Homo sapiens: one gene and its partner. The protein of the gene in region 1 interacts with the protein of each later gene in a pairwise test. Each region holds a gene or a part of one and is shown on either strand. Other genes may lie near its edges. The genes, in order: EGLN2 and ETS2.

Region 1 (3,682 bases):
GCCACAGTGGTTCTTGACTTTGCCAGGAACCCTCTTAAACTCATGAGAGCTGCTGACATTCACAGCGTGGACCTTGGTGGGGTTCATGGCCTCCTGGTGTCAGTCTGTGGCCCCAGACCAAGCACGGGGATGTAGATAGGCACACAGTTCACCTGGCCGTTCTCTGTTGCTGTCTGTCCCTGTCCACATCCTTCCCTGTGCTCCTGTCGTCCATCCCTGTTTGCTGGCCCATGTTTCTAGTCCATCCATCCTGTCTCCAAGGCAGGAGAAGCAGAAGGGGGAGGGTGGCTGTGATGAGTGAGCCCTGGGCTGAGGGAAGGAAAGGGGTGCTGCCCGCTGGGCCGAGTGCTTGGCCCTGGACTGCATTGTGCCCTGGGTCCCCACTGTGGCATCTGCATCGAGGACAGTCTCCTGGGGGTGGTACTGGGTGGCTGCCTGTTGGCCCAGGTGGAGCTCATCCCCATGTCTCCCACCCTTCACTGTCCCAGTCCCTGCCCTCCATTCCCCCTGTCCTGTGTGTCACTTCCTCCCTACCCATGTCTGTCTCTTCCTCTGCCTTTATGTGTTTGTTCTTAGTCCCTTTTTCTTTTTGCTTTAGAACAATAGTTCTTAATGGTATTTTGGAGCCTGGGTCTTTTTGAGAATCTGTCAGAGGCCACAGATCCTCTCTTAAGACAAATGCTCATTTGCTTGGAGTTTCCGGGCAGTTGTCAAGGCCTCATGGCCTCCAGCTGCCTGTTCAGGAACCTGGGGTCAGGAGCCCAGCACAGGACAGTGGTCCATAGGGCCTTTCCGGGCTGCTGACAGGATCATTGTCTTCATGGGTGGTGTGGGGGCCTGGCCTTGAGTCCAAGGCTTGGTGTCCTTTGGACAAGGCCCTGTGGGGAGTGCCCACTGCTCAACACAGTGATGCCTGGCTGGCTGATGGCACGGGCAGTGTTGTGCCCTGCAGGCGTGAGGCTGAGCTCCTGATGTCCTCTGCCTCCTCCTGCAGATCCCATCTTGGGTTCTGCTTCTGTGTGGCTTTCCTCTCAGGCTGGAGCTGGCTCAGGGACCAGGGCTCCCCCGGGGCCAAGGCCTGTTTCCTCCCCACCCCAGCTGGAACTTGTTCTACTTCCCTCTCCCTCCCGTTACTTGATAGCTGAGCCAGAGCCGGCCCCTCCCTGGGCTTGGCTCCTGTGCGGGCGGGATCAGTGGCCTCCCTGGCTCAGCATCTTCACCCCAGGTTGGCTGTCGTCCTCGTCAGGGGGAGACCAGAAGGGCTGAGTGGCCCAGATGGGACACTGCTCTGAGCCTCAATTTGCTGATCCACGGAATACGAAAACCAGGTTACATCCCCAGTGAGTCTGGCAGTTTGGGGAGGGGAGAGTAGGAGAAGATCTCTTGTGTTTTGGTGCCTCTGGTGCCCACTTTCTATGTGGTTGGGGACAGGGCCCCAGCGAGGATTGGGGAAGGGGCGTGTTTGGACTTTTTTAGCCCTAGGTGACCTTGATTGTCCTAGGGAAGTAAGGACAGGCCAGGCTGGACTGAGAACATAGGGGAGGAGCCCTCCCCTCCCCAGTGAGACAGCAACTCCAGGCTTTCCCGCTTTTAGATGGGCCCCATCTGGACTCTCTCCTGTACTCCAGAGTAAGGCTGTGGGGTGCTCAGGTGGGCTGCAGCAGTTGCCGTGGGGACATGGATCACCAGTGTGGCTAGAGCCAGTAGAAACGTGCTTCTTAGTCGTTCTGAGTGGAGCTCCTGTGTCATCCTTCCTTCCCCCAACTCCCTGGTTGGGGACAGGTGCTCCGTTGACCTGTAGGTGGGAGAGAGTTGACTCCCACTGGCAGCAAGGGCTACCAGAGGGGACCCCAGGGAGAGTCCAGCTTGCTTGGTTTGCTCCTTGAAGAGCAGCTTGGAGGTGGGACAGTCACAGGCTTCTGACTGGGGTGTGTGTGTAGTGGGGGTGGGGCTCTTGGCAGGCAGATTGTCACCAATAGCCTTTAAGTCTTTGGTCTCCTGGCCCTGGTCCCACCTGTCCCTCCCCTAGGTGGGAGGGGTGGAGAGCAAGTTTCCTGAGGCCTTCCCCTGTGAGGGCAGGAAGTAGATACTTTCCTTGGGGCCAGAGGATGCTTTCACCCCCAAGGTGTGTATATGTGGGGGAAGGGTGGGGCCCTAAAGAGCAGGTTCCTGTTTCTGTGTGAGTCCCATGTGCTTGGTGGGAGGCGCTGTGTGAGAATGTACAGGGCAGGAGGAAACATAGCAGGGCTGGGGTGCAGAGGAGGCCCAGAGCAGTGCACTCCAGTCTGCAGGTACTGCACTGGGCACTGGGGAGACCAACCTGGCCCCAGGGGCTTCCCTGTGGCTGCCTTCCAGGGCAGTACTAGGTAAACAGGTGCCTGTGCTGATGCCATGTTGCTAGGAGTGGAACGGACAATCAGCCGGAGTACTCAAGGTGACCCTTGGTCTCTGAATCCTGAATAACAAAGAGGGTCAGAAGGAAGAGTGTCCCAGGCCAGTGCTGAGGCCTTGTGGTGGCGATGAGCTCAGCCTGTTGAGGCATGGAGCAGAGTGATGGGAGAGGCACATGAGGTTGGGGGCCTTTGAGGCTGTGGTTGGGAATTTGTATTTTCTCAGGATGGAGTGAAGACCTGGAGAGGAGGGGCTCTGGCTGCTGTGTGGGGATGAATTGTGGGAAGAGGGTGCAGCACTGGACCCCTTCCCTGCCACCCATCCACGTGCATCATCAGTGTAATCTCTGATTGGATTCCTAATTGGGGAGGTCTTGCCCATCTCTAGTCAGTAACTCACTGTTTCTAAGCCTCCTGGACCATGGCCCAATTCTTCTCCCAGTGAGGTGGTTGCTCAGAGTGCCGACCCTTCCATAGGGAGTGAGCAGTGCAAAGAAGGTGCCCCCTCCTGAACCTTGAAGTGTAGCCATTAGGGTTTTCCCTGGGGGGCCTTCTCACTAATTGTACTCTGGTGCTGCCAGAGAGAAGGTTGTCAGCTTCCCACTGCTAGGTGGCAGTAGATGGTGGCAGCCCTCTCTTTCCAGGGCAAGGTCTGGTGGATGAGGTGCACATGGTTAATGCAGAGCAGCTTAACATCCACCACAGAGGGTGAGCCCTGGGATAATGTGTTGGGAGGCGTCCTGGGGAGGGTGAGGATTGAAGCAGCCCAGTCTGCTGTGGCGTGCGTGCTTGGCAAGCATCCTGTTGTGGCAGTGGCCACTGATGTTTGATCGTGAATGTTTATCTTGGGACTGTCTTGCTGGGCCGGGCCCATAGGTGTAGCTGAGCATTCGTGGGGAATGGACGCCAGCAGAGTTGTACCAGGGCAGAGAGGTCAGGGCAGAGAGGTCAAGACAGATGGTCCGGGCTGGGGAGAAGTTGAAGGGTCCTTGTGCCAGTCCTCCCCTTTTTGTGTGCTACCTCATCTTGCCACTGCAGTGACTTTGGGCAGAGGGTGGGACAGGGACCTTTTAAAATTTTTAAATGGCATTTCAGCCTGTGCTCCAGTTCTCCATGTGGCAGGCACTGTGCTGGCTGTCTTCCCAGACACTTGTTATCTTGTTCACTTGTTCCACAACAACCTGTGAAATAGCTGTGAGCTCCATTGGATCCATGGATGAGGAACCTGAGACCAGGAAGTCACCTGCCTGATGCCACAGCTCATGTGGCAGCACTGAGACTTGAACCAGGGA
Region 2 (3,810 bases), on another chromosome or scaffold:
TATAACTGGTTTGCCTTGCTCCACTGGGTCACTCCTCTCTTGGATGTAATCCTTGAAAGACATGGTTGGCTTATTGAGGCAGAGAGACTGGCTGCAGTCATCTTCGAAGCTCTCGAAGGAAGGAACCCGTTGCACATCCAGCAAGGACGACTGGCTGTTCCAGGACTGGAGGAGGGAGTCTGAGCTCTCGAAGCTGTCCGCACCGTTCTCAGGGGAGTCGTGGTCTTTGGGAGTCCCTGGCAAAGACAACCAAACACATACTTTGATTCCTCCAGGACACAGTTGGTCTTGGGCACGACCATAGCATCACCAACCACTACCAGTGCAATCATGCACCTGCTGGTGTAGAACCACTCAGACTTCTCAAAATGCTCTCTACTCAGGTGCTTATTCCTTAGGGTAACTATACTACACAAATCCTATCTTCCATCAACAGTAGAATGAATAAAATTCTTATAATGGAATACTATACAGCGATGAAAAAGAACACATGGCTGCTACATCCAACAACATGCATGAATCCCAGACATGATGAGTAAAAGACAAACACAAAAGAAAACATGCCTTATGATTCCATCTATGTAAAGTTCAAGAAAATCAAAACCTAATCCGTAATGATAAAAGTCAGAATCGTTCCCTTCTGTCGGGGGGACATTATTGATGGGAAGGGGTACGAAGGAATCTTCCAGGCTACTGGAAACTTCTCTATCTCCATCTGGATGGTTATTACATGGGTATACATACATACACAAATCCAACCAGCCACATGACCTGAGACTTGTGCACTGTATTTATGTTACATCTCCATAAGAAGAAATGTCACATTCCTGCATCGCCTCCATAAATATCCCAAAGTGTGGAGAAATCTGGCTGTAAGAGCAGGGACTGTTTTGTTTACTCAATGCCTGCAGTACCTGGGCCAGTGCCTGAAACATATTAGGGGTATGCTTGTTGGAAATCCACTTAGAACATGGGCTTTGACCCCCTTCTCTAATGGCTGAATCCAGGAAGTATTTATTAAGAGGTTCATTATGGCTCTGGGGTTCTCAGAATCAAAGCAACAGCCTTGTTGAAAGATGCTTCCAATCTTACCAGAATTGTTGGTGAGCAAATTCAAGTTGCTGCCTGGGAAGTCCTGACTGACAGAGCAGTAGGTGACGCTGACGGAGCTGAGCCGAGACTTGGGGAACATCTGAAACTCCTGCTCAGAGCTGAGTACGCTGGGTGTGGAGGCCGGACACATGCTGTCCAGGAGGCCGCCTTTGGGGTAATTCTGTGTCTGCATTCCATAGGGCGCCTGCTCTGTGCCAAAACCTGGAACAGAACAATCGGACGGCAGAGCTCTTAAAGTCAGTGTTACCCCAGTAACTAACCCCTACGAGCAAATGACAGGTGAGCACTCCGCACACTCCAGCCCTCTGCAGAACCTCAGTGGAGACCCGGGCTTTGGTGGGGGTCTGTCACCAGGCCTTCTTCTCAAACCATTCAGCTTCTCAACCAGCAGCCCTCTGCCAAAATGACTGCAGCCTCTGCAGGCAGGACTCAATGTTCCTATTTCTACAACCCTAGTGCTTTCATGGGACCTTCAGGAAGACAGGGCTCACTGGCTCTTTTAGCTTCCGAGGAGAGTAAGGCTCAGACAGACCAAGTGACGTGTCATGTACTGTGTGATTCATAAGGGCAGAACCAGGCCATGAACCCTGTGTGCTGAGGCACAGCCCACTCTGCTTTCTGCTCCTTCATCACACCGCTCCTGTCTCTGTTCATTGCAGAATAATTTATTTTCTGGAGAGGGAAGGAAGCTCTCTGACTCTGATTCAGGTTCAGGCAGGCACAGGGTGTCCCACTGTCATGTTCAGAAAGACCTCCTGAGCAGGAAGCCCCCAGTGGGGCAGAGAGGTGGGCTTCACCGGGTCTGAATGGTGGAGCTGGGGCCAGAGAGAAAACACTGGGCCGGACCAACACCACCCAAGCCTGCTGTTCCGAGGACCCCTCCCTCGCTGGCCTGGCCAGACCCTGTGCCCTCCCCAGTATCAGCAACCAGAAGAAAGGACCCAGATTCCATGACAGCTCTTTAAGCTCCCAAGTTCAGAGCCAGTTTACAAATTGCTTTTCACGCACTCTGTGCCTGCCGCCTCTTGTTTGCTACACTAAACCAACATTACTGGTGACTGCGGTAATCAGCTCACTTCGTTCTGCTCCTTGCTCTAAGAATTGCCTGGACTAGCACTAACAGTGCTGACCTATGGAAGATCGTGTGAGCCACTTAAGCAACTGCGAAAGTTCTAGTGGCCATATTAAAAAAGCAAAAAGAAACAGGTGAAGTTAATTTTCTTATTTTACTTGGCCTCATATAGCAATTATCATTTCAATATGTAATCAATACATTAAAAATTATCAGGGAGACATTTTATATTCTCTGTTTCATACTAAGACTTCCAAATCTGGTGTGCATGACTATACTCTTCCTACACATCTCGATGTGGACCAGTCACATTTCAATGGCTTATAGCTCAACACCCACGTGTGGCCACCATAAGAGACACACAGGTCTAGGTGGCCCCTTAGGAGCCTACAGTAGAGAGATTCCAAGTCTACTGGGAAGACTGAAGACAAAGTTCTTAAGGGCAGAATCAATCGGACTGACCTAATGTATTGCTGTTAATCCAATGAGGAACGGAGGTGAGGTGTGAATTTTCTTCATATTGATCTTCTGTCTTTTCTTGGTTTTCTGAAAAGCAGACACAGGAGACGTAAGATGGCAGATGTAGGTGAAAACTACACAGAACAAATTGACTTTCTGAATTCCTGTGAGATGATAATTTTAGAATGATGAGATGCACGGAGTGCTTCACATTTAATCTCATGGTGCTCCACGTCCCTGCCTGTCTTTTTCAAAAAACGAGAGAAAGCAACCCATTTTTCCAATTACTAAAATAAATTTTCCAAAATGAATGATGTCATTGGCAACACTAAATTTTCTATCGCAAAAGGTCCAGATGGTGTATTGAATTCATTCATGCATTCAAGAAACAGTTAAGTATTTATGAAATGCCATCTGTACCAGAGGCTGCATACAGGAAATTAATAAAATGGATGGTGTCTGCCCCCGTGAAGCTTACAGTTCCACTGCTTCCAAACCTGCACGCTTCCCCAGGGTGTGGGAAGTCTCCAGGGCTGTGGGAGTCTGGGATGGGGAACACATGTGCCCAAGAACTTTGAAAGGGAAAAGGTTTGTGCACTGTGTATGCATACTTACTACGAATATATTACAAAGTGCACGTCCACCCGGAAACCCAAATACACACAAACTCACAGGCCCGAGGAATGGTAAAACAGGCCCAATTTGCCAATAAACAGATCACCAGAAACTTGGTAGAAAAGCCCTGTCCAAGTTCAGAAGAAATGAGGGTCTTTAAAAATGAGTTTCCCTGGCCCTCAGACGCCGTAACTAAAAAAAGTTAGCTGTTGAATCCTAGGTGTTTTCGAGATTCTGAGTCTACAGTTGATGCTGAAATTCAGTGTGTTTAAAATCAGTCAGGTGAGGACTAGTTCCCTGAATTCTATAAACATGCTTATTTTCTTATATTTTTTTAACCTAAATAATCCCTACTGTATTTTATTTCTTTCCCTCCCTCCCTCCCTCCCTCCCTCCCCTCCCTCCCTCCCTCCCTCCCTCCCCTCCCTCCCTCCCTCTTTCTTTCCTTCCTTCCTTCCCTCCCTCCCTCCTTCCTTCCTTCCTTCCTTCCTTCCTTCCTTCCTTCCTTCCTTCCTTCCTTCCTTCCTTCCTTCCTTCCTTCCTTTCAACAG

Evidence for each region.
Region 2: the proteins of EGLN2 (region 1) and ETS2 interact in a two-hybrid assay, tested with the Homo sapiens proteins (one large-scale study listed by BioGRID and IntAct).

The regions. Positions count from the first base shown.
Region 1 is NC_000019.10:40,801,896-40,805,577, forward strand, and holds part of EGLN2 (prolyl hydroxylase EGLN2), read left to right. Parts: intron 1-3,682. UniProt on the Homo sapiens protein: Prolyl hydroxylase that mediates hydroxylation of proline residues in target proteins, such as ATF4, IKBKB, CEP192 and HIF1A. Target proteins are preferentially recognized via a LXXLAP motif.
Region 2 is NC_000021.9:38,815,929-38,819,738, reverse strand, and holds part of ETS2 (protein C-ets-2), read right to left. Parts: intron 2,732-3,810; coding exon 2,648-2,731; intron 1,315-2,647; coding exon 1,093-1,314; intron 237-1,092; coding exon 1-236. UniProt on the Homo sapiens protein: Transcription factor activating transcription. Binds specifically the DNA GGAA/T core motif (Ets-binding site or EBS) in gene promoters and stimulates transcription.